3 separate regions of the Homo sapiens genome follow, and regions 1 and 2 are each linked to region 3. The links come from fine-mapping of genetic effects on gene expression. A gene starts in region 3. Each other region holds a variant in brackets. All regions are shown on one strand. Distances are between the middles of the regions.

The links. PIP is the estimated chance that this variant, and not a neighbour inherited with it, causes the effect.
Region 1: its variant is fine-mapped to the expression of LINC02288 in subcutaneous fat (GTEx, PIP above 0.99).
Region 2: its variant is fine-mapped to the expression of LINC02288 in whole blood (INTERVAL, PIP above 0.99).

Annotation. Positions count from the first base shown.
Region 1 is chr14:77,066,205-77,076,177 of GRCh38, reverse strand. LINC02288 (long intergenic non-protein coding RNA 2288) reads right to left here. Exons shown (of 4, transcript NR_110554.1): 4 at 6,675-9,069. It overlaps LINC02289 (long intergenic non-protein coding RNA 2289), which reads left to right. Exons shown (of 3, transcript NR_110553.1): 1 at 1-73; 2 at 4,406-4,468; 3 at 5,332-6,998. Among named protein-coding and RNA genes, the nearest start is that of LINC02289, 5.0 kb to the left of the region's middle. RefSeq lists silencers at 1-132, 7,658-7,952 and an enhancer at 7,629-7,688. The variant C/T (reference allele first, on the strand shown) is at 4,786.
Region 2 is chr14:77,076,863-77,086,835 of GRCh38, reverse strand. No RefSeq gene overlaps it. Among named protein-coding and RNA genes, the nearest start is that of LINC02289, 5.7 kb to the right of the region's middle. The variant T/A (reference allele first, on the strand shown) is at 5,777.
Region 3 is chr14:77,036,859-77,046,831 of GRCh38, reverse strand. LINC02288 (long intergenic non-protein coding RNA 2288) reads right to left here and starts at 5,783. Exons shown (of 4, transcript NR_110554.1): 1 at 5,555-5,783. RefSeq lists enhancers at 1,765-2,275, 6,081-6,170, 1,822-6,304, 5,580-6,311 and a silencer at 6,421-6,610.

The sequences.
Region 1 (9,973 bases), 29 kb before region 3:
AAGCAAGGGAAGCATTTCCCCTTCCCCTGGCTGAAAGCTCAGCTGACCCCGAGGCTCTTCTGGTCATGCTTAGGTATGTACATTTTATGTCACGAAATCCAGTATCGACTTAGAGATTTAAAGCAGCCACCCAAAGATATTAAATGACTCTTGCATTTTTCTTCAAAGAGAAATCTTCTTCCTCCTGCCCTAGTTAAGGCCTTAGTTGGGGGCTGCCAGCTGCCAGGGACTGGGCATGGTGGCTTTTGTCTATTCTCTCCCGAATACCCCTCTCCCCACTTGCTGGTTGCTTTCAGAGTCTAAGTGGAGGTGGTGGGTGAGGATGCAGGGAAGCGGATGGGGAGCAGGGGAATAGGGCAGTTTTTACTTGACTGTATGATTGCCAGCTCTCTGGGTGTGGCAGATGGTGAAAGCTCTTTCTGGAGGGTTCCCTGTGTTCTTCAGAAGTTCCCATCTCAGCCAGGCTTGGTGGCTCACGCCTATAATCCCAGCACTTTGGAAGGCGGAGGCGGGCAGATCACTGGAGCCCAGGAGTACTAGACCAGCCCGAGCAACATGGCTAAACCTCATCTCTACCAAAAATACAAAAAGTATCTGGGGGTGGTGCTGCACGCCTGTAGTCCCAGCTACTTGGGAGGCTGAGGCAGGAGGATTGCTTGAACCCAGGAGGTAGAGGTTGCTGTGAGCCGAGTTTGGGCCACTGGACTCCAGCTTGGGCAACAGAGTGAGACCCTGTCTTAAAAAAAAAAAAAAAAAAAGTTCCCATCTCTAAGGTTTTCTCCTGAAGTTCCCTGTTCTGCACCTCCATTTCAGGTACAGCTATGACTCCATCTTCAACCCCTAGAAATCCAGCATCCTCTTCCAACTTCTTTCTGCTGACATCCCTTTGCCCTTCTCAGAGGCCCTACAGGACTTAAAATGACCCCCACCTTGGCCCTCTCTCCTGCCATGGTCCATCTGATCCACATGTGGCCCATGGGAAGAACTCACACAGCCCCTTCACTCATCCTAATGCAGTCCCTCCTGGCACAGTCCCATGGGGGCCCACAGCTCCAAGTGGCTGCATGGAAGCCCCCATCACTAGGCTTGAGTTGAAAGCAGTAGGGCCCCTAACTCCTTGGTGGGGTAGCTTACAGCATGGCTTTGCCCTTTCTGGAAGTTTCTATTTCCAAACTCTCCCCATTCTCCACACTCTATATTGTTGGTAGGCTGAGGGCCCTGAGTGCTATGCAACTGGTTCCCCATTATTTCCTTTGTAAATACTACATATGGGAGTCTGTCTCATGTTCAGTTTGCTATCTGATGATATTGTGGTAGCCTGCTTCCACAATGGCCCCTCATTGTCCCCATCTCCTGGTATTCACATCATTGTGTCTCCTCCCTCCGTGAACAGGGCCGACCCTTGTAGCCACTTGCTATTGCAGAGCTGATGGCATGCATCTTCTGAGGCTAGGTCATTGTTGTGTGTTTAATGATGTCCCCCAGAAGATATGTTGCAGCCCTAACCCCCAGGGCCTATAAATGTGACCTTTTCTGGAAATAGTCTTCGCAGTTGTAATCAAGGGTTGTTCTTGACTAGAGTGGGCCCTACATCCAATGACTGGTGTTCTCATAAGGAGAGAGAGACAAAGAGTAGACAGACACAAGGGAGAAGGCCGTGTGAAGATGGAGACAGAGATTGGAATGATACAGCCACAAGCCAAGAAACATCTGCGGCCGTCAGAAGTTGGAAGAGGCAAGGAATGATTTATTCTTTCCCACTCATTGTTTCACCAATGAGCACCTTCCATGTGCCACCGTTCTGACCCTGCTGACAATGTGGTTTCAGACTTCTGGCCCCCAGAACTGTGAAAGAGTAAATTTCTGTTAAGTTATCTTGCTTGTGGTACTTTGTTACAGCAGCCCTGTGGATCTAATATAGTCATAAGAGACATTGTGACCTCCTCCCTGCTCTCTTGAACCACTCATTCTGGGAGAAGTCAGCTGCCATGTCATGAAGCTACTCAGGGAGGTCCATGGAGAGGTCCACATGGCAAGGAACTGAGGCCTCCTGCCAGTAGCCAGCACCATCTTGCTGGCCATGTGAGCGTGCCATCTTAGATGCAGATCATACGGCCCCAGTCAAGCCTTCAAATGACTGCATCCCTACTTGACATTTTGACTGTAACCTCATGACAAACCCTAAGCCAGAACACCAGCTAAGCCACTCCCCAATTCCTCATCAAGAGAAACTGAGATAATAAATGTTTATTATTGTTTTAAGCTACTAAATTTTGAGGTAATCTGTTATGTAGCAATAGATAACTAATACTGATATCTGTCATATTGGGGCCTCAGTGTAACTTGGAACAGAAAGAGTTCCATATTATAATTCTTAAACATTACTTGGAATGGTTAGGGGCCCCAGTGCTATTCTCTCTGGGGATATTTCCAGCAATGGGCCCCACAGCCATTTATAGTGAGTTGTCCCACTTACTCTTTCACCAGTGAGCACTTTCCATGTGTCAGATGCCATATTAGAGACTGGGGCTATAGAAATGAACAGTCTTTTGGGAGGCCGAGGCAGGTGGATCACCTGAGGTCAAGAATTTGAGACCAGTCTGACCAACATGGAGAAACCCCGTCTCTACTAAAAAAAAAAAAAATACAAAATTAGCTGGGTGTGGTGGTGCATGCCTGTAATCCCAGCTACTTGGGAGGCTGAGGCAGGAGAATCACTTGAACCTGAGAGGCGGAGGTTGTGGTAAGCCAAGATTACACCATTGCACTCCAGCCTGGGCAACAAGAGTGAAATTCCATCTCAAAAAAAGAAAAAAAAGAAATGAACAGCCCTGTTCTTAATCACTTAACCAGTGGTCATTATGGTCTCTGCTAGTAGAGCACTATGGGCAAGAAGGACAGCACTGCTTTGCAGGGAAGGGAAAAGAGAGACATCACTGAGGCACTGAAGAGGAGAAGCATTCAGTGGTATGACCTTGAAGAGACAAGAAGAGGACCAAGTTCAAGAGTCTGCAAGAACAGTGGGAGGTAGAGCTGGAACTAGAATCCAGACACCCCACTTCTAGTCTTGAATTTGCGCTTCCTGAACTACACAGAGGCTGGCTCATGGTACCAGGGTCTCTAAAGATACCTGGAGGCATGAACTTGAATCCTGCTGGGATACTACTCTTTGAATAATAATTTCTCTATGGAAAGGCAGGGTACAAAGTCTTGGAATCTTGTTTCTGCTCTGCCATCTTAGCTAAATAACTCCCTTTGGAGATCCTTTGAACCCTGATAGATCAGCAAGCCCCCTCTGAAACATCATAAGCCTCAGGGCAAGAAGGCTGGCCTTCTCCTCCATCTGAATCCCAGCCCTTCTTTTTTTGAGATGGAGTTTTGCTCTTGTTGCCCAGGCTGGAGTGCAATGGCGCGATCTCGGCTCACCACAACCTCTGCCTCCTGGGTTCTAGCGATTCTCCTGCCTCAGCCTCCTGAGTAGCTGGGATTACAGGCATGCAAAACCATGCCCTGCTAATTTTGTATTTTAAGTAGAGACAGGGTTTCTCCATGTTGGAAAGGCTGGTCTTGAACTCTCGACTTCAGGTGATCCGCCCGCCTCTAGCCCTTCTTAGTAGTGGTGTTTTCTAAACAGGTTAGATAAGAATTTGACACCTGCTGAAATCTCCAGGCTGGCTCCTCCCAAGGTCAAATTGCACATCTTGCCAACGAGAACAGCCTTCACTTCTTGAGCATCTACTCAGCAGCAAGTGATTTCTCTAATCTTCACAACACCCTCTCAAGGCAAGGGATCATGGGCCACACTTGGCAATCTAGGAAAGTGAAGTTCAAGAACAAGCCCCAGGACACACAGCTAGTGACAGCGAGGCACAGAGCTGGGATTCCAACCCAGGCCTGTCTAACCCTAAAGCTCCTCCTATCCACCTCCTCCTTGCTGCCACAGAAGGTGACTCAGAGGTACTCAGTCTGGAGAATTCAAGCCAGTATCCCAGGAAGTGGAATTTTCTCCAGTGTTCTAGGAAGGAGGGATTACCATGGCATGGGGTGGGCCAGGTAGACACAAGAGGCAGTGAAGGTGCATAAAGTGGTGATTAAAGGGAATGGAGTCTACTGTGGTTTGGATATGGTTGCGTCAACCTAAACTCATGTTGAAATTTGACCCTCGGTGTGGTGGTGGTGGGAGGTGGGGCCTAGTGGGAGGTGTCTGGGTCATGGGGGCAGATCTCTCATGAAGGGCTTAGTGCCATCCTCACAGTGGAGAGTGAGTTTTCACCCTGGCAAGACTGGATTCTTGTAGGAATGGATTTGTTCCCAAGACAGTGGGTTGTTATAAAGCCAGGATGCCCCTTGGGTTTTCCCTTCTTTGCAAGTGTTCACTCTCCCTTTGACCTTCTGTATGTCGCAGCCCTCACCAGAGGCTGAGCAGATGCTGAGGCCATGCTTCTTGATTCTCCCAGCCAACAGATCTGTAAGCTGAATAAACCTCTCTTCTTTATAAATTACCCCGTCTCAGGTATCCTGTTATGGCAACACGAAATGGACTAAGACAGGCGGGTGACAGATTGTCCAGGTTTGAAACATAGCTTTTCCTTGTGCACCGCATCTCAGGTTCTTCATCTGAAAATTGGGGATAAGAACATGTACCTCCTTGGGTTTGGGGGAAGATTAAATGAGATAATGCATGTGAAATTCATGGCAAGAGTAAACTGCCCATTACATCTTTCTGCTTTTAACATTGCTATTGACATTACTTTCCCTCCATGGTCACTAGACTCTTGTATCAGG[C/T]CAGTATTTGAAGACAGACAAATTTAAACGAAATAGATGTAACTTGGAGGATGATGGCAGAGAAATCTGTGGCTTGACGGTTTTTTTTTTTTTTTTTTTTTTGAGACAGAGTCTTGCACTGTTGCCCAGGCTGGAGTGCAGTAGCATGATCTCAGCTCACTGCAACCTCCGCCTCCCGGGTTCAAGCGATTCTCCTTCCTCAACCTCCCTAGTAGCTGGGATTACAGGTGCCCGCTACCATGCCTGCTAATTTTTTGTATTTTTATAGAGACAGGGTTTCACTATGTTGGCCAGGCTGGTCTCGAACTCCTGACCTCGTGATCCACCCGTTTCGGCCTCCCAAAGTGCTGGGATTACAGGCGTGAGCCACCGCGCCTGGCCTTGAAGGTTGTTTTTCTAATTTTTTTTCCCAGCTCTAAGACAGCTCCCTGTGTAAGATGATGAGTGTGATTAATTGCAATCAGCTCCTCTCCATGTAATGAGGGAAGCTGGATGTCATCCTCTGGCTTCTGTCCAAGCTGATGCAGTTACCTATTGTGTCCACAGGATGTCACTATCAATCACGCTTCGACTGAGTACAGCCAAACCAGGATACTCAGGGACTTGGAATCTGTTACCAGACTTTTATTTAGTACAGACACAGCGCCAGGGGGCTGAGCATTCTTCAGCAACACCCTTTGGACCCCTTTCTACACCATCATGCTGTATGAACAGAAGGGTTGGGGACATGAAGGAGCAGCTCAGCTAAGGTGACCCAGATGGTTGGGCTCAGAGCTGGAAGAACACCGTGGTCTTCTGACTCCCAATTCCTGCATCTGTCCTGCTTGTAAGAGGCTTGCCAAGAACAGGAGCTTTTGTTTGTAGGTCTCTAGGGATGGCCACCACAGGGAGTGTGATTTGAAGATGGGGTCGGCGTGACATTACAGGCCCCCTTTAGGCTCTGCTGGGTTGCAGGCCAGCTCTCTGGGCTGCCTTTCTGATGGCTGCTATTTTAAAGGCAGATAGGATGAAGTTAGCAACAACTTATATCATTAAACTAGCAAGGGCTCAGGAGGGGCAGCCCCCTTCTGGGAATGTGCCTAGCTCCTGCTCCAGAATGGAGGAGTTTCTGTGGCTCTAGGAGAGCTGGCCTTCTATGGAGTCTGAGCAATGTACCGCACGGGGAGGAGAAGACGCTTCCAGAAGATACCAGTGTTTCTATCCAGAGACGTTTCCAGGACACCACGTTAAGCAGCAGAGACACTAGAAGCCAAGGCACCTATGGTCTGGTGTGGATGTGTGCCTCCTGTGCCTCAGTGGCATCATCCGTACCATGGGAGGTGTGTAATGAGGGGTGAGATCACGTCTGTGAGGGCACGTACATAGTAGATGCCCAGGAAGTGCCAGTCCCCATCTCCTTCCCAGTTTCTTCAAAGCCTTCTGGAAGGCACTGGCATAGCCCAGTCCTGAGGCACTGCTTTTTCTTTCATGGATGATCAGGAGCTTCTGTGATTTCTTCCCCCTCACTCTTCATTTTGCCAAGATGTTGCCCATAGTAACCTCAGCAGTGGAGCGAGGATTCTGCACTGTTCCACTGCCCTGGGGCTGCACACCCACGTGAGCGGGGCCGACCCGTCCCAGAGCGCTTTGCCCTCAGAAGGCAGCATCACCTGCAGGAGCAATGCCATGGACAGCTCTGGCTTGTCCTCCAGGGCCCTGGCATGGTCAGTGAGAAAATGCCCCTGGGGCATGGGCTTCTCCTGTCAGTCAAGTTCAGAAGGCTTCCTGGGGTAGGTAGAGACGCTCCCTACCCAGCTGAGTTATTGAAATGATAGGAGGGAGAAGGGAAGGTCTGGGCATGTGGCACTGTGATTTTTTTTTCTTTCTTCTTTTTTTTTTTTTTTTTTTTTGGAGACTCGGGGTAGAAATGAGGACAGGAAGAAGTACAATCCGTCTGGGATTGGTTTATTTTTATTGCTTTTTAAAATCATGTGACTAATTGGTGTTCATTGAAAAAGAGAAAACAAAAATAAGCCAAGAGAAGACAGCAAAAATAATCTGTTAACATCTTGGCAAATATCCTTTTTCTCTGCATAGAAACGGAGAATACTTTTGTTTCACTTATAAAATGTTTCTTAATGTACACAGCTTTATAACCTGCTTTTTGCTTAATGGGACAATATACTAGGACATGTTTTCAGGCCAACAGATAAATATACTTCACTTGCATTGATGCTATTGGCTCCATGGTGTTCTGGTGGTTGGTAATTTACCCTGTCATTCTGTCTCCCTTTACTCAGTGGCAAAAATGACCTGGGCACCTGCACCTGGGCCTGGGCTGGACATCAGTCCTTGGCAGATGGGGAAGGTTGGCGACCAGCAAGGCACAGAATAAGGACACACGGTCCCAGCAGACCCTTGGGATGACCTTGACCACTTGGACCTTGGAGAGAGAGTGGAGAGGAGAAGAACAGAGGGCAAAGCCACATGGAAGGGAGGGTGCAGGTGGCTGGTGGCTGGAACTCCTAGAGGCTGAGCAGTGGGGGTTGCAGGAGAGAACTGGCTCCTTCTAGACAGGGGAATATCGTGGTTAGGGTTCTGGAGTCAGATTCAATCTGGGCTCTGTCACCTACTAGCTGGGGAACAAATAATTGCGCCTTGGATCATCACCTATAAAACTAATAATAGCTACTAATCAGATTGATGTAAGTGCCAGGATTAAATGAGAGAGTCTACAAGCTATAAAAAGTGCTATGTGGCAGCTGCCTTTAAACATTCCTAACATTGGCTTTGTTATTATTGTTGCTGCATTTCCAGGTAACGCAGAAGGGCTTCTCTCTTCCCTAGCCCATCCCTCTGCCTCATTTCTCTCACATTCCTGCTTCTCCTCTTTCTCTTCCTTTTCAACCCTGCAAAAGCCTTGGCTTCGGGAGCAGTGGCAGGAGGGAGGGAAGAGGAGGCTGCAGCCGCTACAGCCTCATGCCACATGGGGGCAGCAAGGCCCTCTGAAATGTGGGCCTGCCTCTCCCACCGCACCTTCTGGCGGGTGCAATGGCCCAGAAGAAAGAAATCCATACCCACCTGGGCCCAGGTAGGGGGGCACTGCCCAGAGGGGTCCCACGGTCCCCAGCCTGGGTCAGCCAGGCCCTGGCAGAGTGGGTGACTGTTACGACAGGTCCCAGGAAGGCAGGGTGCCCCAGAGTGGGGCCGGGTCTGCTCAAGAGGGAGTTGGAGAATCTGGAGAAGGGTGGGAAGGAGGTGTGAGAGTCCTCCAGGAACCTACAAGCCTCCAGGTGCCATGAGAGATGGTCCTGGAAAATTGGCCAGCCGAACTTGGTCTTTGGGACAACCCAGAAGAGAGAATTAAGTGGGAGTCAGTATAGCACAGTGGCTCAGCACATGGGCTCTGGGGGCTGGCTGGACCTGGCGTCCACTAGTGGCTCTGGCGCTTACCAGCTGTGTGGCCTGGATCAATTCACTTAACCTCTCTGAGCCTCCATTTCCTCACCTGTAAATAATAGTGGTACCTACCTCATAGAGTTTGTGAAAACTAAGTAAGGTAATATACATGGAGCACTTGGCACACTGCCCAATCCATGGCAGCTTAGTTATTTTTATCATTATCAGGTAAGTTGGCCTGAAGAGCTGGGAGACAGTTATGTATAGAAAATGAATGTGCTGGCCGTGCACATGCATGGTGGCTCAAGCCTATAATCCTAGCACCTTGGGAGGCAAGGTGAGAGGACTGCTTGAGGCCAGGAGTTCAAGCCCAGCCTGGCCAGCATGGTGAAACCCCATCTCTACTAAAAATACAAAAATTAGCTGGGGGTGGTGGCACATGCCTGTAGTCCTAGCTACTCAGGAGGCTTAGGCAGAAGAATTGCTTGAACCTGGGAGGTGGAGGTTGCAGTGAGTCAAGATCACGCCACTGTACCTCAGCCTGGGCAACAGAGTGAGACTCCCTCTCAAAAAAAAAAAAAAAAGAAAAGAAAAGAAAAAGAAAAAATGTGTTTCCCCAAGTTCACAGCTGTGGCTGGGTATTCTTTGCAGAACCAAGTTGGAGTATGCATGGCTGGGGATCTGGAGAGGAAAGAATTGGGGGGTTGGGGTCAAAGGGCAATCATAATAAAGAACAAGGGGTGGGGGCCTCTAGGCTTGGCTGCTTTGAAACCAGGTAAAGACTCCAGTCGCCTTCCTGGTTAAGGAACATGTTGTATGTGTTCACACCACACCTCTTTCCTCCAGGCTGCCCTTGAAGCAGTCCCACTCCTCCTGGGGGTGCAGAGCAGGGGTCCACAGTGGTGCCTGCATGGGAAGCAGAAGAGGGCTGGCATGGAGAAGGGGGGCTCAGTGACCTTAAGCATCTAAGGCCTGATGGTCAACTTGGGTCCACCCTGCAGGGAAGCAGGTGCCCCTGCTGGCCTTCTTGCCATGCACAGGCAGACTGGGCCCTGGACCAGGCCTCCCACTTCCTGCTAATGAGGCGCGGCTCCTCCAAGGGCAGAGGGGCTATGCTCCTGGCAGGCGGGCTAGCACGTTGGTGAGCAAGGGTGAGAGTATGTCTGCCTGTGTTCTTTTAACTTCTGCAGAAAGGTCACCGAGGGGTCTCCATTACGAGCGGTCTTGAGCCCTGTACTATTTTTTCATACAATTTAATCTACTCCCTGGATGGCCTCCAGTGTGTGAGCCACTGACAATCGCAGGTTTTTGCAATTGATTTCCTGGAAGCAGCGGCCCAGCCGGCAGCCACATGATGGATGTATGCTAGGCAACCTGGTTCAGCAGAGGCTGAAGGGGCTTAGGAACCCCAGGCTGCCCTCCCACACCATGGCAAGGTCCCTGAAATGTCGGAAGCATGCACTTCTGCCCTCCAGCTCCACCCTGAATCATCAATGCCTGGAGAACCACTCACACATGTGCACAAAGAGACATGGGTGAGCATGCTCGGTGCAGAATTGTTTGTATGGTAAAAACTGGAGCCACCTTATCTCTTCATCAGGCAGGGCTGCTGCATTCTGGGTGTGGATGGCATCCCCTGGAATTGTGCAGAGGCACCATTTACCATGAAAACCTTTTGACCCATGTCCTCTAGAGCTGGGACCCTGAGTGAGGGGGAGTGAGAGGGGCGTGGTTGAATCAACTGTGTTACAGGCACGCATGGAATATTAGGTAGAGGTTAAAAACAAAAAATGAGGATAGCCAGGTGTGG
Region 2 (9,973 bases), 40 kb before region 3:
TGGCCATTCCCATGCAGAACGATGGTACGTTTGGCCTCCTGCTTTGTGGACAAGTATAATGGGATAACCCACAGGATTTACCCACAAGGTAAATCCAAGAAAATTCACTGCAATGTCTTGTGCTAATAGTTTAATGAAATTGAAATTCTCCCTCCAGCAATTTCTGACAGGGCATGGGGATTTTCTCCGGTGTCACCATACTTCAGCAGGAGTGACTGTGTCATCCAGGTGCAGGTATTCTTGGTTGTCCTTTACCTGTTGTCTCTTCTTGTCACACATAGCTAAGAAAGCAGATGATAGGTTCATCTCTATTACATGGGGAATTACCAAGTGGTTGCCTAGCAACTCACACAGCACAGTCAACATGGTCTCTGTTGTGGAATGTAGAGTGGTTAGCTTTCTTTTCAAGAATGTATTTCCATACTTCTTTTGGGTTTCTAGAAAAGAAGGTACATTTCCTGGATTTGAGGTTAGTAAAATGGACTTTTGTATTGCTTTTCCCAGTATTTATTCTATAGTAGGCCATTATTGTAACAAACAACAATTATCTGATCAAATCATTAATACAGCAATTGTTTCACTTTCATTCAATTCAGTAAGCATCTTCTATGTGCCATATACCCTACTAGACACTGTAAGGAATTATAAGGATGCACAAGTGTGGTCCCTGGTCTCAGGGAACCTAAAATTTAGTGTAGATGGTTATATGTTTAATAGATGTGTATAACTCACTTGTTTACGCATGCGAAACACATAGCTATATATGTATGTAAAATAAAGGTATCTTTATTTGGAAGAGTTCCTTTGTGTTTGATCAAAGGAATTTTTGCTTGTATTTAGATTACTGCCTTCATAGCTTACAGCTGCAATCAGTTCAAAAAGCTGTAATCAAAAATTGTAATCACTTTTAAGACATAGCTCCTATTGGAATCTAAGTAATTAGCAGCTCTTAAACAGCTCTTGTTGGAATATGCCTCTGCCGCTGCTGATGTTATCAGATAGGATGGTGCTGCTCAGTGTCTGCACTGCAGTCTTTCTGCATAATTGCTGCTGTGGCATTCACAGCTCCCTGCTTCTATTTCACACATTCCAGTTTAAAAGAAGCCCCTTGTCTTTCTTTGTCTACTTTGTAACCATGCAGCTGCCTCTCTCCCCTTGAAGAGGGACTTTGGCATGTCCCAACTCTTGCGTTAGGGAATCCTTTGATTACTTCAGCTAACTTCTTTTCCACTGGAAAGACAGTTGCTAGACAGAGCCTGGGACTTGACTAGCGCCTTTCCCGTGAATTGACTCATCTGGTGAATTGTGGCATCTTCATCCTCAGGAAGGTGCCAGGACATGGAGTGAAGTAAGTGTCCCTTGATGCAGCTGGTGCCTATTCGTTAGATTCTCCTCCTGAGTGAACTGTACTGAGACTCCACTAAGGAAAGAGGAAGCTTTTGTGGATAGTTGTGCCACAGCCCCAGAATTCTCTTCCACCATTTTGGCTAGCGCTCTTTAGTTTCTCTGCTTGCCTTCCCAGTCCCTGTGCAGGGCCTGCCCCTTGATCGTTTTCTCCGCCGTCCAGTTCCCTTAGATCCCTTGAGAAATCATTTGGACCTCTTGCCTTCACACAGAGCCCCTGACCTTTGCTTCCCAATACAATGTCAGCTAGAAGGAAGAGGACAAAGGGTAGAAGGGGACTGTGTGAGACCAAACATTGTACAGACGTTTTCCTTAAGCTTCCTCATTTCATCCTCATAACCACTTCTCCCTAGCTCTTCACAGCCCCATTCCACACATGAAGCTCAAAAAAGTGCTACACAGATTGCTCTAATGAGTACTGCCACAGTCTCCTGTCTCAAGTCAGTTTTTCACTTACGATCAAGCTAACCAACATTTACTGTGTACTGTGTCCCTCCCAAGGGTTAGGAGCACAGTAAAGCATATATAAGGCCCAGTCTCTTCTCTTAAGGAGTTCCCAGAATGGTTTTATAAGTGCTATAAGAAAGATTTGGGAACACAAATAGGAGATCAGTTAGTTTAGGTAAAGGATGGGAGATCAGGAAGAGACACTTAGCCATTTAGATCTGGAAGGTTGGCTAACAAGAGAGGGCTCTCTATTTACCTTTAAAAATGGGCCTAGGGCTGGGTGCAGTGGCTCACGCCTGTAATCCCAGCACTTTGGGAGGCTGAGGCGGGCGGATCACCTGAGGTCAGGAATTCGAGAACAGCCTGGCCAACATGATGAAACCCCGTCACTAATAAAAATACAAAAAAAAAAAAAAAGGCCGGGCGTGGTGGCTCACGCCTGTGATCCCAGCACTTTGGGAGGCTGAGGCAGGTGGATCACAAGGTCAGGTGTTCAAGACCAGCCTGGCCAACATAGTGAAACCCTGTCTCTACTAAAAAAATAAAAATAAAAATAAATAATTAGCTGGGCGTGGTAGCAGGCGCCTGTAATCCCAGTTACTTGGGAGGCTGAGGCAGGAGAATTGCTTGAACCTGGAAGGCGGAGGTTGCAGTGAGCTGAGATCGCACCACTGCACTCCAGCCCGGGCAACAGCGTGAGATTCCATCTCAAAAAAAAAAAAAGTAGCTGGGTGCAGTGGCGCACAGCTGCAGTCCCAGCTACTCGGGAGGCTGAGGCAGGAGAATCGCTTGAACCCAGGAGCGGGAGGTTGCAGTGAGCCGAGATTGCGCCACTGCAGTCCAGCCTGGGTGACAGAGTGAGACTCTGTCTCAAAAAAAAAAAAGAAAAAAAAAGGCCTAGAAAAAGCTGGGTGTTGGCCAGGCATGGTGGCACACGCCTGTAATCTCAACACTTTGGGATGCCGAGGCAGGCGAATCACCTGAGGTCAGGAGTTCAAGACCAGCCTGGCCAACATGGTGAAAGCCCATCTCTACTAAAAAATACAAAAATTAGCTGGGTATGGTTGCAGCCGCCTATAATCCCAGCTACTTGGGAGGCTGAGGCAGGAGAATCGCTTGAACCCGGGAGGCGAAGGTTGCAGTGAGGTGAGATCAAACCATTGCACTCCGGCATGGGCAAGAGAGCAAGACTTTGTCAAAAAAAAAAGAAAAAAAGGAAGAAGGGAAGGAAGGAAGGAAGGAAGGAAGGAAGGAAGGAAGGCGGGAAGGAAGGAAAAGCTGGATGCAGTGGTGAATGCCTGTAGTCTGAGACCAGGCTGGGCAACATAGCAAGACCTCATCTCTAAAAATAATAATAAATAAAATAAAAATTAATGATGGACCCAGAGCAGAGATCTGTTGCCCTTTGATGTTGGGAAATCCTTTATTGCTTGAATCTAAATCCTTTATGCTGCAGTTTACACCGTATTTCCTCTCGTTTCAACTTCAGTTAAAATAGCGAAAATCTGGCCTAATACCCTAGTCACTCAGAGGTTTTTTAGCAAGTCATATCTGGCTCACTACCCTAGCATAGAAAAGAAACTATTTTCCTCTCACCCCAAAACCCTGCAGCTAGACTTTTCTAGCTGCTGCACTATGAACAGTTTCTAAGAGATTCCTCCCACTAGAGCCTTCCCTAGAAGGGTGGAGGTGGGCAGGGCAATCAGCGAATCGGGCGGCCTGCCCCAGATAACTGCACTTGGAAAGAGTCTGCATTGTAAGCATTTCTCATGGTGTCTTCACTGAAGACAGAATTTTTGAAGTTAAATGACATATGAAAGACAGGAATAAAGTACAGTGTCTCACAACATCCTGTAAGAGATTTTTACCAGCCTATGGGTCATATTAACCAAGGAGGTCATATTGACATCCAGACCTAAATTTCATTAGCTCTGGTCTCCTACTGAAGGTCTATAGAACTTGCTAGCCATCCCCTCGCCCTGCTAACTCACCCTTAGTTATTTCTGGGAGACCCCCGAACTATCTCCCATAGGTTCATAGGCAAATCCACTATGTTCTTCCCCTTCAGCCTCCCCATTCCTGGTCTGCTATTCACAAGCTCCTTAAAAGGGGGTACCTCATCAGTGTCTGTGGCCTCCATAAGAACATTGTTCTTGCAGTGGTCACTCCTGTTGCCCTGCTGGGAACAGCATTCTCTCCCTTCTCTCCTGGGGCCACTCTAAGCCAGCAGGTCACCAAAGTGGAGGGTGGGATAGGGCAGCAGGGACCTCTCACAGACTGGCTGCACTTCGTTAAGTGTGTTGTGAAGCAAAGCTGCATATATCTTTAGTTGCACAAAGCCTCACACAGTTACTCCTCTTTCCATTTATCGCCCCTCACGCTTCCCTCACAGGGGCTGGAAATGAGTCTCTCAAACCATCATGGAAGATAACAGCTCATCAATACCTTCCAGTACACTTATCTTTCTCCCCAGAGAGCTCTGAACCCAAACAAAACAACTCCCACAAAACCAAACAAATAAAACTCAAAACCCTCTTCAATTCAAGATAGCAAAACTATGTCAATTGATGCAAATACTTAACAATACTTGGGTGGACAGAAATGAGAAGGTTGGTGATGTTTTGTACACTCCATCCCATAATTCATAAAACCCAGGAATAGTGGGGGTTTCTCATATAACTTGAAAAGGAAGTCAACTTATTTGCATAAGAAACATAATGCATGAAAGCTCTCATCTCATTGGCAATCTGTGAGAACGCAATCCTGGGAGAAATCTGCAATGGTTGTAGTCCAAAATTTAACAGTGCTTTGTCAAATGGACTTCTTGCTATACAAGAATTTTCTCTGTAGGTGCTAAGAAACATCCACTGCACCCTACTCCAAAATAAACACACAGAAATTAAACTCTTTCAATCCAGATAACACAAAAGACAAAGATAGAAATGGGATTGCCCTAAAAGTAGACTTCACAGTATGGTGGACAGAGCTCAGGATGTGGCATTAAAGGTCTTAGTCGAATCCAGGCCCTGCCACTTACAAGCTGGAATCCCCCGAGAAAGTCCCTTTCCCACCAGGCACGGTGGCTCACGCCTGTAATCCCAGCACTTTGGGAGGCCAAGGCAGGTGGATCACGAGGTCAGGAGTTCGAGACCAGCCTGACCAACATGGCGAAACCCCATCTCTACTACAAATACAAAAATTAGCCAGGCATGGTGGCACATGCCTGTAATCCCAGCTACTCAGGAAGCTGAGGCAGGAGAATCGCTTGAACCTGGGAGGCGGAGGTTGCAGTGAGCTGAGATCGCACCACTGCACTCCAGCTTGGTTGACAGAGCGAGACTTCCTCTCAAAACAACAACAACAAAAACAAAACAAAAAAAAACCTGTAGAAACTTGCTTTTGTGGTCTAAGTATATTCTTAGTTTAAAACCAAAGTGTTTTGTTACTACTGCTATTTGTTTAAACATCTCTGTTTCAACATTAGCTTTAGCCACAGAGAGTATCTGGGACCAGAAACACAGGATCTCTATTAAAAGAACACGAAACGTCACTTCCACACGACCTGCAATTTCTAGAATGGAGAGAAAGCTTCAGTAAACATTCAGTAATAGCATGCAACAAAGGCAAGTAAAGGCTGTGATAGAACACTGGCATGGTGTTCTTAAAAGAATAATATTATTTGTCCTGTATTTAGCCAACATAAGGATGTATTGCTCTTGTTTTCTCATGGTGGGAGATATGAAGTTATGAAGAGATAGTTACTGGATCAAAATAGAAGAAATGATGCCTGGCAGCTAGAAAAAAATATTCATGTGCATTGATTACACAATAAACAAGTAAATACGTAAGTAGCTCTTCTTTACCCATTATTCTAAATCTTCAGTGATAAATCACTATACTTCACAAGGATCTATGAATTTTGCAA[T/A]GTATTAATTTTAAATTAATTAATTTATTTTTTATTTTCATTTATTTATTTTTTTGAGACAGAGTCTCGCTCTGTTGCCCAGGCTGGAGTGCCATGGTGTGACCTCGACTCACCGCAACCTCTGCCTCCTGGAGTGGATTCTCGTGCCTCAGCCTCTCAAGTAGCTGGGACTGCAGGCACACACCAGTATGGCTGGCTAATTTTTTGTATTTTTAGCAGAGATGGGGTTTTACCATGTTGCCCAACTGGTCTCAAACTCCTGGGCTCAAGTGATCCACCCACCTCGGCCTCCCAAAGTACTGGGATTAGAGGTATGAGCCACCACACCGGGCCTAATTTGTTTATTTTTATTATTTTTATTTTTTTGAGACAGGGTCTTGCTCTGATGCCCAGGCTGGAGTGCAGTGGTATGAACATGGCTTACTGCATCCTCAAACTCCTGGGCTCAAACAATCCTTCTGCCTCAGCCCCCCAAAGTGCTAGGATTAATTTGTTTATATAGACAGGAGGAGTTCCAGAAAAAACATTTTCCTGGGGTCTGACGTACCTTAAGGGTGGTCTTGACCACTACCTGGCCAACAGTGCCATGGATTTCAAAGATATTAGAATACATTAAAAACATGGATCTTAGAATAGATGTAATGCAACATTTAGTCTCTCAGAAAAGGCAAATTTATTTCTTTCTCACTTGAGGTATTCATTGCAGATTGTCAGGATACTCTGCTCCACAAGGTCATTCAGGGATCCAGGTTCTTTGCATTTTCCTGTCATCTCTTAGGGCATCATTTTTACTAGCATGGCAAAGCTAGGTCTCAGGCAAGATCATGTTCTGGTTCAAGGGAAGGGGAAAGAGTAAGGATGAGACATGCCCACTATCTTTTTTTTTTTTTTTGAGTCTCACTCTATCACCCAGGCTGGAGTGCAGTGGCATGATCTCAGCTCACTGCAACCTCCGCCTCCTGGGTTCAAGCAATTCTCATGTCTCAGCCTGCCGCATTCCCACTATCTTAAGGCCTAGGTGTAATCATCTCTTCTGCCCATATAGTGCAAACTTAGTCATGTGGTCACACCTAACTGCAAGGTGTCCCCCAAGTGACTACTCACTCCAGGGCTGGGACTCACATGTACTACGATTTGAACTGCAAGGAAAATTGGGAAATGCTATCTCCAGCTGAGCAACTATGGACCCAACTACATATATGTTACTATGAAAAAATGGGAGGAAAAATCTTGGTAAAACTCTGGCAGTCTCCATTTTAGAGATCCATCTGAATGAACCATCTCAGATGCTAGTTTATCTTAGAGATACCTGAAAGAGTTCTTGTTTGTCACCTGGAGGTTGATTTGGACAATCATGGCACAGGTATTATACTACCACTCGGCAGAGTCTTCTTTAAACTTTTAGCTCTCACCTTAATCAATTTAAGAGTGAGCTTCTTTTTGGTATAAAGACTTTGGTAGGTCAGGTGTGGTGGCTCACACCTATAATCCTAGCACTTCAGGAGGCCGAGGTGGGCAGATCACTTGAACTCAGGAGTTCGCGATCAGCCTGGGCAACATGGTGAGACTCCATCTCTACTAAAAATACAAATAGTAGCTGGGTGTGGTGGTGCACACTTATAATTCTAGCTACTCTGGAGGCTGAAGAGGGAGGATTCTTTGAGCCTAGGAGGTTGAGGCTGCAGTGAGCTGAGATCTCACACTACACTCCAGCCTGAGCGACAGAGTGAGACCCTGCCTCAAAAAAAAAAAAAAAAAAGAAAAGAAAAGAAAAGAAAAAAAAGACTGTGGTAGCTATGTATTGCTTTTTGTCATCAAGAATCCTTTCACCTGTCTCCCAGTGGTAGTATGCTACTTTCCTCTTGGGAACCCCACTTCCCCATTCTTGATGTCCCACAGACAGAGTTGACTCCACTCCCAGATCCAGAAGTGGTTATGTGACTACAACCTGGCCACTTAGGCCATCACATTCCCCAGCCATGGTGTCTTGCTTGATGATGGATTCATGTTCAAGTCAGAGCCAGTTCAGTGGAATGAGACTTTTGCTGGGACTGCAAAAAGAAAAGCACTTCATGTTTTTTCCTCACAAGTCTCAGGCATAGGAAGAGGTGGGACTGGATTGCTGGCAGCCATCTTATCCCAACAAGAAAACGCTATGGAGAAGAGCAGCATCGGGGATAAAGATAAAGCCAAATCTTGGTGATATTGTTTGAATCCCTGGATCAAGCTTGGCCTGAACCAGCACAATGCCTAATCCCTGGTCTGCTTAGTTATATGAAACAGCATCCCAATTTAAAGTCATTTAGAGGTGAATTTTCTGTCACTTAGTGCAACCGAGAGAGTAATAACTGATGCGAAGGCCACATAGACTTGGCCTTTTTTTTTTTTTTCCTGAAGTATAAATTCCCTTAGCATCTGTGTGGCCCAGCACTACACTCTGGATCTCCTTAGCTGTCTGGTCACTGAATGGGGACTGCTACTTGGCCGTGATTCTCAACCAGGGGTAATTTTGCCCCCAAGGGACAGTTTTGTCATGGAGTTGGGGGAGGCGCTACTGGCATCTTGTGGATAGAGGCCAGGGATATTCCAAAACATCCTACAATGTACAGGGCAGCCCCGACAACGAAGAATAATCCAGCCCAAACTGTCATTAGTGCTCTGTAGATGGTTTTGGCTGCTATAACAAAATACCTTAGACTGGGTAATTTATAAACAATGGAAATTTATCATTCACAGTTCTGGAGACTGGAAAGTCCAAGGTCAAGGCGCCAGCAGATTCAGTGTCTTGTGAGGGCTCATTCCTCATACATGGTGCCTCCTCTGTGTCCTTGCATGGCAGAAGGGGTCAACAAGCTCCTTCAGGCCTCTTTTATAAAAGTCTTAATCCCATTCATGAGGGGAGAGCCCTCAGGACCTAATCATGTGGCAGGCAGATTGTCTGAGGTCAGGAGTTCGAGACCAGCCTGGCCAACGTGGAGAAACTCTGTCTCTACTAAAAAAAAAAAAAAAAAATAGCCTGCTGTGGTAGTGCACACCTGTAGTCCCGACTACTCGGGAGGCTGAGGCAGGAGAATTGCTTGAACCTGGGAGGTGGAAGTTGCAATAAGCCGAGATCACACCATTGCACTCCAGCCTGGATGACAGAGCAAGGCTCTGTCTCAAAAAACAAATAAATAGGCCGGGCGCGGTGGCTCACGCCTGTAATCCCAGCACTCTGGGAGGCCGAGGTGGGTGGATCAAGATGTCAGGAGATGGAGACTATCCTGGCTAACACGGTGAAACCCCGCCTCTACTAAAAATACAAAAAATTAGCCAGGCGCCGTGGCAGGCACCTGTAGTCCCAGCTACTCGGGAGGCTGGGCAGGAGAATGGCGTGAACCCTGGAAGCGGAACTTGCAGTGAGCCGAGATCTTGCCACTGCACTCTGTCTGCCTGGGCGACAGAGCGAAACTCTGTCTCAAAACAAAAAAAAACAAAAACAAAATAAATAAACAAACAAATAAATAAATAAATAAAGAGTGTTAGGAGCCTTCTCTCCTGTAAGCTGTGAACAACTAAGCTTGTTTAGGTCCTGAAATGTCACTGTCATTGTCAGCATGATAAATGCTTTGTGCTGTAATAATACAGAGAAACAGGATGTCTATTCCCCAAAGCCTCTGTGATGGAGAAGGTGGGCTTTCCAGAGGCTCTGACTGTGGAATGTGTCTAGAATCCTCTGCATGTTTTCCAGGTTCACCTCCACACCCTCATCTCTGCTCAGCCGGGTCCTTGCTAGGAGCAGGAACCTGCCTGGTGGGTCTCTGATGGCAGCCCCATGCTCTGCAGACCCCGGACTCTCCGCAGCCCCAGCTCCTGCCTTGTCCTGTTGTCTTCCACCAAGGGGCACCCTTCTTTAAAAAGCTGGACTCTTTTTTTTTTTTTTTTTTTTTTGAGATAGGTTCTTGCTCTATCACCCAGGCTGGAGTGCAATAGTGCAATCACAGCTCACTGCTGCCTCCACTGCCTGGGCTTAAGTAATCCTCCTGCCTCAGTCTCCTGAGTAGCAGGGACCACAGACACACACCAACACTCCAAGCTAATTTTTAAAAATTATTTGTAGGGATGAGGTCTCGCTATGTTGCCCAGGCTGGTCTCAAGCTCCTGGCCTCAAGGGATCCTCCTGCCTTAGCCTCCCAAAGTGCTGGGATTACAGGAGTG
Region 3 (9,973 bases):
TGCTTCATCTATAAAATGGGGACGATAACTGAATCCACTTCATTAAGTGTGGATTAGAAGAGATAATGCATTGAAACAGCCAGCACAATGTCCAACACATAAGAGGTGCCCAATAAATGTCAGCCTTGCCTATCATCATTGCTATTAATATCCTAAAGTCTGGGCTGTTAAGCACCTTCCCAACCTGCTGTAGGAAAGATGCTTTCCGGAGTCGGTATGTCCCTGGGTAGAAAGGAAGGAGATTTTACTGCCAGAACCACGACAGTGCTGCTGGTAACAGTCTTCAAACTAACGGGGCGAGGAGAGCTGGGAGCTGTGTCCTCTAGTTTCTATCACCACAACCCTCTGATTGTTTCACCTCTCCTGAGGTTCTCCTGGCCACAGTGGGTGCAGCAGCCCTACCATTGCAGAGTGGCTGGCAGCTCTGCCCTCGCCCAGGGCATTCTCCTTAAGGAGCAACTTCTGTCTCCTTTGCCCGTGAACCAACCTGAATGAAGTGTATTTCCAGGAAATATAAGCTGCCTTTGCTTTCAAGAGTCACATCTGGCCAGGTGCAATGGCTCACGCCTGTAATCCCAGTACTTTGGGAGACCAAGGTGAGCAGATCACCTGAGGTCAGAAGTTTGAGACCAGCCTGGCCCAATGGTGAAACCCCATCTTTACTAAAAATACAAAAATTAGCCAGGCATGGTGGCGTGCGCCTGTAATCCCAACTACTCGGGAGGCTGAAACAGGAGTATCACTTAAGCCCAGGAGGTGGAGATTGCAGTGAGCCAGATCATGCCACTGCACTCCAGCTTGGGCGACAGAGCAACACCCTGTTTCAAAAAAAAAAAAAAAAGCCACATCTATCAGTGATGGGTCCTGCAGGTCCCCCTTGCTCTTGTACCTCATCTATGCACACCTCCCCAGTAGCTTTCTGGTTTTGTGTATAGACAGATGTTTCTGATATATGCGTGCATGCAGTTCTGTGTGTGTTTTCTGGGCTCAAAAGCATCTGCGCTGGCACAGGCTGAAGGCTGGCACCACCCTTGGCAGCAATAGCCCAAGGACACTTTTTTGTCCATTGCATTCCATGTCTGGGTGGGGCCCCTGCCTGCTGGGTAAGTATTGACTCCCTGCACTTTTCCATCTATATCTTGGAGTGTTCTTTTGGCAGAAACTACAAGTGCTGCTAACTTGAGAGTCCAAACCCCAGCACCCAGCTGTTCTCAGCATATCTCCCTGAGATGGGGTGCTTGGGCTCACGGACTGACATCATGGCAGCTGCCATAATAAAACACTGAAGGGGTGGGGAACAGGCAGGCTCACTAAGCCACACCTTGCTTTCAGAACTTTTGGATGTCCACAGATCTTTTTAGCACTGTCTGCCCTCTTTTGTGGCTGCATTCTTGCACAAGACCTGGTTGCCCCTAGCTTCGTCTCTCTGAAAAACATGTTCAGCTCCCTCCAGAGAAAACTCAGAAACTCCTATGCATTTTCCTGGAATCATTCTATAGCTCCAGCCTGGGAAAGCTTCCAAAAGTTTCCTGAACCAAAGATAATAATAATAAAAGAGGTGAGGGAGGGGAGAATCGTGGGCACACAATTCTGTTGATTAATGTGCAAGGGAACAGACTAGGATTGTAGGGAAAGGAAAAAGAAAGGCTTTTCCAGGTCAGTTTAAACATTTGTGTTGTCTTCTTTAAAGGCAATTTCAAAATAGTTGGCCTCCCCAAAGCGATTTTTTGGAATCTACCCAGAGGGCAGAAAATGAACCCTTCCTTCCCCCATCTGGAAAGTCTTCACACCAGTGGCCCCACTCATTCCTGAGCTCTGGCTTTAGAAGGACTTTCCCAACCTTCCAAGATTCCCTGCCCTCCCTCACCCGCTGACCTATAGGGAGTTATGTTTGCTCCACCCCAAGCAGCTGCATTCCAGCTGTGGAGCTATTATGAAACATTTAGGAATCCTCTGGCTAGAAAGGTAAATGAGGAATATGCCCTAATGACAGCTGAAGGCTGGCTAAAATCTGTAAACAGAGAAGCAGCAAGGAACAAATGCTTGACAGAGGATTCCCTTTACAATTCTATTGTGCAGAAGAGTCAGCTGTTAACTTACAGAAGACCTTCTAGATGGTCTCACAGATAAAAGTGCTGATCAGCTTGACCCCCTACTGTGAATCGCAAGAAATGAAATTCAAACCTATTTGTGAAGATTCAAAAATATTTTCACTTACTCATGATCTCTCATCTTTTTAATTAAAGCACAACATCTTGCTCAAAACAAGCCTTTGAAACAACAAAATAAACAGAACCTTAATTTAGGGATTTGCCAACTGATCTTGACTACTGCTGGCAGGTTATAGCAGCCAGTTAGAAGCAGAACATGGGGTTCCCTGCCCTTCCGAAGATGGTGTCTGCCTGAGGACTCAGAAAAGAGGGGGGCCACAGAGACCCATGAGGATCCTTGAAATACACAGAAGTTGGCCAGACAGGGCAGGGCTGAGCAAATGGCTTTTTAGGCAGCTGAGGCCCTCTGCAGCTGTCAGAACAACTGCCACCAAGCTCTCCTGGTTGAGGTTGCAGCAAGTGCTGCAGTGTTGACCTTATCTTCCGAGACTGCGTTGTGGACACTCAGGTTAACGGCAGTCCACCTTACTATCTAGTTCTAGAACAGTCAGCGGCACCTGCCTAGCTACACGCTGTCTCACCCAAACCATTTCATTTCCTGGGTCTTGCGATTCTGGACTTTTCCACTAGCAACAACTGCCATCCAGCCAGACAGCAACAATGAACCACCACAGGTATGCTTTGAGAATCCAGTATCCAGGGTGGGGAACTCCATATAATCCTCCATTCACGCATGGTGCTAAAAGCAGATATGGAGAATTAGTAGAAGAGGTGCCCTGTGTCCCAGGGGGCCGCCCAGCCACAGTGAAAGCATCTCTCTCTCCCCACTTCTTCCTGCTCCAGTCGTTCTACCTCAAACACTCCCTACAGAGCACCTTTTAACACCTCTGGAGCCACCACTGCCACGTCACCCCTCACCCCCACCCACTGGCCTAACCACCCAATTCTCAGCCAGGTCTTTTGCAGAGCACAGCCTCCATGGTTGCCATGGAGGGTTTCTCCCCCCAGCAGTACCCCTTGGGGCTTTGAGACCCTATAAGGAAAGCACCAGGAAACCCCAAAACATTCTCCCTCCTGAAAACAATGGTTCCCAGTGTCTATGCCAGACACACTCACACCACCCAAAATAGACTCATTGTCCTCTTGCACAACATCCAGGAATTTGGTGAAACTCATCATTTTTCAGGTTACCGATAATGCAAGTTTGGAAACTGAAACAGGAAGGAACACAGGCTGAAAAGCTTTTATCCAGCCCACAGCATTTCTCTCTCCAGATGCAAGATAGTTTTTTTTTTTTTTTTCCCAGCAGTACTTTGGTGGGGTTAAAATTAGCTGGCAGCATTCTGGTCACATGCTAGACAACAAAACAAAAGGGAGTTGTTCCCCCTGCCGCTCCTGAACTGGCCCACGACAGAGTTTCCTAATCCATGGATTTCTGGGAAGCTGGCTCTCCGGGCCCTGGTATGGAGGGGCTACACCAAGGACTCCCCTCCGGTTATCATCCCTGCTATAATGGGGCGACACAGACGAGGTCAAGGCTGTTTGGAATCTTGGAGCTTGCCTCGATCTGGAAAGGCACTCAAGGGTCCAAAATGGCTTTTGTAAATCTTCTCACCAAAGCCAACAAAGAAGCAAACACTACAAAAACACTGAGAGAGAGAAGGGTAACATCTGACACATGAACATGGGCATCCATTGACTTGTGGGGTGGTGGCTGCTCTTGGCATGATTAAAAAAAAAATAGCCGGGTGTGGTGGCTCATGCCTGTAATCCCAGAAACTTTGGGAAGCTGAGGAGGGCAGATCGCCTGAGGTCAGGAGTTCGAGACCAGCCCGGCCAACATGGCAAAACCCTGTCTCTACTAAAAATACAAAAAAAGTAGCCAGGCATGATAGCACGTGCCTGTAATCCCAGCTACTCGGGAGGCTGAGGCAAGAGAATTGCTTGAACCCGGGAGGCGGAGGTTGCAGTGAGCTGAGACTGCCCCACTGCACTCCAGCCTGGGCGACAGAGGAAGACACCGCCTCAAAAAACAAAACAAAACAAAAATAAATAAATATAATACATCTGGGCTAGAGGTGGCGAACATTTAGGATAGATTCTGTATCTCTTGACCTTGATGACAGGGACATGTCAGGGTCTGCTTTGTTCATCCAGCTTAAAACTGTCACCAGAAGCCCTGGATAAAAATGCAGCCTCTGATTCACACACGGTCAGGAAACATGCCTTGTGCTCAGTACAGAAACATGTCCGTCAACCTGGGAAAGGAATCACCACCACGAAATATGCTTTTGGCTTGCCAAAGCTTAGCAGCTGTGAGAGCCAAAAACCCAGCTGCCTGGACTGTCTGGGGAAGTTGGCGGGAGGGAGGGGGGGTTGCTTTCTGAATCACCTGATTTCTGCCTCTAACTCTAGTTTAATTCCAAGTCGAAACCTATCTTGAAATGTCTCAAGAGCCTACTGCTCCTAAAAATTGTAGGTTTTAGCTAACCCTTCAGCTCTGTGCCTGCTGGCAAGGTGAAGCAGATGGCGTTTGTTGATTATTTATTTGGAAGGGGCTACTTTGGAATCAGGAAATTCCAGCGAGACAGAGTGCATCGCCTTGGCCAGAGCTGCCGTGACAATCACGAGCAGACACCCAGAGACAGTCAAGTTCAAAGAAATTGCAGCTAAGCCCCAGGAACTTGGGGCATTTTCAGTCTTTCTCGTCTCCTGGCCTCCATGTTCACCATGCACTTAGGAAGAAATGTTTCGTTCAGTTCAACATTCTGTGGTCTTCAAGTGTTTGAATACAAGGGCCCACATTCAAGGTCCCGCTTTGTCAAAAGGGCTTCACGAAGCTAACAGGCCTCTGACTTGTGTTTCATCCTGAAGCCCCTCATTATACAGACAGATCAAAACAGAAATCCCCCCTGCCTTAATGCCCAGCACATAAAGTCCTCTTTAATTAACATACACCATTTTTCAGTGAAACAGCCTCAAGGTGTTAAAAGTGCATAAAGGTCTGAAAGCTGAAGCCCAAGATAAACAGTGTGCCGAAATATATTTAGCAGAAAATATTGAAAGCCACAGGAAAAATAAGTTCCCTTCCTGGGATGTTAACGAATGTTTAGGTTCAGGAAACCTTCAGGAAGTAGCGAGCCGAGAAGGAATACTGCTCACCGTTTTTACCCCCAATGTAAATAAATCACTAAACCTCTTTGGTTTCCATAGGCCTGGGCTGGAGTGGAATATTTCATTTTTTCCCCATTAAACAGGCCACCCGGAGTGTTGGCATTACAGGCCTGAAAATATACCAAATCTGAATGTGCTATTTTGTTTCTGTACATTAAATCAGACTGTGTTTCAAACGGCAGTTCGTGCTAAATGGGGGGCTGATGATCCAGACTGTGCACCCTCACACACCTGAAATTGGCGCAGCGTAAATGATAGATCTGTTTCACCTTGGATCTCCCCGTGTCTTGTCTCCTACAGGAACACACCCTCTGTCGTTGTTGCCCAAGGTGATGTCATGTTCATTCTAAAGGCCGCGGTTCCAAGGGGACTACACCACAAGAAGATGCCTTCAGAAAGACCCAGATTTCCTGCGGTCTCAGGTAGGCGGCAGGGAGCAAGAGAACAAGGAAAGGACCCGCCACCACTCTCCCCAAGATGGATGCTGCATGATGTAAGTGGCTGGCTAAAATATCTGGCATCCTTGCAGTTTTAAGTTGCCAGCTAAATATTATTAAAAAGATAAAATACACGCAAACTGTGCAGAATGCAGGGCTGCTGTGTTTACATCCGGGTTTTGATGACTCAAAGACTTACACTTGAGCTTGCTGAAAAGCCTCTATTAAAAATACCGCTTTGTGAAAGCCCCCAGGGAGCAGGAAGAAAGCTGGGGGTGTGAAAGAGGAGAGCGGGAGGATGGTGACCCACCCAAGGACGGCGCTGACACCTGTGCTCCGGGCTGGCACTTAAGGCCAAGGAAGTGCTTAGAGGTTAACCTCCTCTCACCCTCGGAACCAGAGCGGGGAGGGTTAACCTTTTTCCAGAACATTTATTTCACCATCTCACTGACTAGAGGGAGGAGGGGCGGGAGGGGGAGAACGAGAGCCTGCCGCGCAGAGAGGCTGCGGATCACAAGGCCATTCTGATAGCCTCCTGTCCCCATGGCAACTGCAACGGCATTTATCAGTTCCTTCTGCGCACAGGCACAGCAAATCTGCATTGCACATGGCAGGCTTCCAGCATTTCAAATGAAAGAGCACTTTGAACGGCTGCCAAGTTTGGAAGGAGCAGAACTGTCAGGGCTGCTTAAAGCTGGCAGTTTATACTGGGGAGGTTTTCGCTTCCCACAATTCTCCGGGCCTGGCGAGCCGCCAAGTACTTAGCGGAAGCTAAAAAGTAACTCGCTCCCCTCCCTCCCCTCCCCTCCCCCTGCTCACGCTCCCCCTCCACACTATTCACCGCAGTGCTCTCAAAATTTTCCACATGTCCTGTGTCACCAGTGCAGACTGTACAATGAAAACCAGAACGCCGGCTGCCCACGACCAGGCTTTTATTAATAAATAACGGAGGGAGGAGGAGGAGGGGTTGGGATCAGACACTGACAGCTGGGGCACCGGGTCTCCGCGTACCTGCCAAAACCCCATAACCACTGGGTGTGAATGCGTGTGGTGTGTGTGCCTTTCAGCCTTAAAAATACATTAATAAAAATAAAAATAAAGGGAGCCTCAGAGCTGTAGACACCCTGAGTACCAGGGGAGGAGGGGTGGGTTTCGGTTGGATGGTTTGGCGCTTTATTTAGGGTGGGAATGGAGGTCTTGCAGGCAGCGTTGTTCAGATCCAGCCTTTCTAAGATCTGTAGGGAAGAGGGTTGTTATTGAGAGCTAAGCCTGTTTCTGGAGCTTTCCTTGAATCTCTCAGATGTCATGGTGAAAGCTGTGAGGCCACAGATGGGGAGGGAGTTCGGAGATGCTTTTCAATGCAAAGTTTACCAGATAACTTCTGACCGTCACGCACAGCCCAGAGCACAAGGGCTTCTATGGGCAGAAAGTGGAAATTGGCATAGTATTCACTGTACTTTTTTTTTTTTTTTAATGAAAATCTACACTGAGATCAAGGGCTTGGGCTTTATTTTCCAGCACAAATAGAATGAAAATTGTCTGCCGCTTAGGCGGTTGGATAGAGTTCAGGAAAACTATGTCTGGCATTAATTCCAAAGTGGAGGTTTTGGTTCAAACGAGGCCCATTAATTTCAGTAAACTGTTTTCACTAGTCCAGACCCTGCTGTGCAAGGACTATTTATTACCTTTTGCTAACCTGATGTCTGCAGAGTTGTAAAGCAAAGGGGGAAAAATCCAGGGTGAAGATATCTATATTTTGCATCAAATGGGTTTTGCACTTCCCTTGGGGGGCCGTGTTTTATGGGGAGTTTTCTATCCTTGGCTTTTATCAGTGCCAATTTTTTAAAAAAAAACTCCATCTTGCAATGAATTAGAAAAAAAAAAATCCTGAAGGAGAGGAGCCTGGTGAGAGCAAATACCCATCTCCTGCCTCTTTCAGAAGGGCACCTCCCAGACACAGGGATGTTTCGTGTCCCTGTCTTCAGCTCCCAGGCTGCAGGTCCACTGCAAAGCCCTGACATGATTCACCCTGACGATCGGGTCTAAAATACACCAAGACAGTCAATTTTGGCATTTGTTCTCCCTTAGGAATTTTACTAGCTGCCGTAGAAAAGCACATAAATTCCTTCCCCCTCCCTCTCTTTTTTCCGTGCCTCCTCTCTTCATCCCTCCCCCCCCACAAGTCCATCTTGATGTCATTTCAAAGAGAAGGATGAAAAGGGGGGATTTGTCAGGCAGTCCGGTTTGAGTGTGTCTTGCCAGGCCCCAACGCGCGCTCGAGGGCGCGCGCGCGCACACACACACACACACACACACACACGCACGCACCAGCTGAGAATGTTAATCAGAATTAAAAGCCAGTCAGTACTATTAAAGCATCAAACATGAAGACCTAGAGAAGAAGGAAGGTAATTGGGGGTGGGGGTAGAGGGAGTGGGAATGAAGTAGAATTCCGTCTTCTGCACTGACTTACTAAAATTAAAGGAGGGGAGAGGCAGCGGTAACCCCGATTTGGTCACCTTGTCAAATGTATTGGTCTTTCCTTTTAACTATCCCCCCACCCCACATCTCCCCACCTTCCTACCCCCTACGCCTCACCCCTTCCCAACACAGTCAAGTTTTGTGCCATTCCCAAGTGTGATTAATCTCTGGCAGAGGCCAGAAACAGGAGTAGGTTTCTTGGCTGCCCGTTCTGATAAACAATCTGTTCTTGGGGAGAGTAGGTGAAGGGGACTGGCGGGGGAAGTGGGGGCGGTAATCTGCGGGCATGATGTGGGGTGGGGGTAGGAGAAGGAGGAAGAGGAGGGGGCAGCCTCCAGGCCGGCCCCAGCTAACCCTAGTAGAGGCCGCCCCCCCACCCGCCGGAAAATGCAAGTGCCCCTCCTTGGGGCGCGTGGTCTGGGGGTGAGTCAGGTTTCCTGCCCTTAAAAATGTGAGCAGACAGTATATGCTTTCTTGCTTGTCACTTCACAACGTCCAGGGAACGTCGGAGGGACATCAAGGGCCCAGGGAGAGGGAAGGAAGAGGAGGGGAGGAGAGAGGAGCCCGCGCATCCCTAGGCTTTGAACCCATTTCAAACGCTCTGGGCGTTGCAAACCAGGTGCGCTTGTGCACAGACTGCTTGTCCCAAAAGGAAACCGAGGCAACCACGGGGGAGGCTGGGTAGGGATGGTGGTGGTAAGAAGTATTTTAAAGCGGAACAAGGAAAGCCAGAAGATGTTTAAAACAAAAGGAGAGACTATTGTTCAGCGTCGGAGGTCGCTGGGATGGAAGCTGTAGGCAAGAAAGCTGGCTGCGGATTTTGCAGTGGGTTTATTGTGTGGGCAACCAGGCAGAAAGCGGGAATATGAAAAAGTGGGGAGGGGGAGAGTTGGCGTGAAGGAAAATCAGTGCCTAGAAAGCTGTGCACGCTGAAAATGTCACCAAGGAGAGGGCAGTGGCACCGAATAAAAGATGAATAATCGGCTACCTTTTGGAAAAAGCAATGTAAAAATATTAATAAAGGCGAGAAGCCCGCTTCTTCTCAGCCTGAAAAGCAAATCCATTTCTCACCTCCTGCCTCTCCTCCCCATCCCAACACACACAAAACACACACATACACACAGCTCTTCTCTGCCCTGCATCCAAGAAGCCTCGGCTAGGCTCGCTTTCCTTTGGATTTAATTACTCGAAAATGCTGAACAAAAACCTGTAATTACACCCTTAGTCCCTGCCACTCAGGCCCAGTACACTTCCTGCCTAGTTTTGTTTTTTAAAGAAGAGGTCATTGCCTCTTTTCTTTCCAAATTGGCCAAAACAAAAAAAAAAAGTAAAAGCCCTAAATAAATCCAACTGCTCCGAGCTTCACTGCCACCACCAGGGATTTGGGGAGGGGATATCCTTGTCTCTCTAGGAGAGATGAGAAACAAACAGCCTAACCTTGCTATTGTCTTTCTCCAGCTTTTAGGCCTAAAGCTTGTCATTGCTTGTTTGTCTGCCAGCCCAGAAGGACATGGACATGCTAGATTGGCCCCCCAGGAGGAGGCCCTCCAAGGGCAAGATGAAGAGAGTGGACAGGGCTTAGCGGCAGGCCTGGCTTTCCACCCATTTTACCTCGAAGGGCTTAGCGCTGGAAAAAAGATTTGTCACAGTGTCTCGCCTTTCTACAGCCCTAGGCATTAACATACAGAATTTCATAGCAAACCCCTGAAGTAGGGAGAACAGGTTTTAATATCAACCTTTGACAGGTGAAGAAATGGAGTCCCAGAGAGA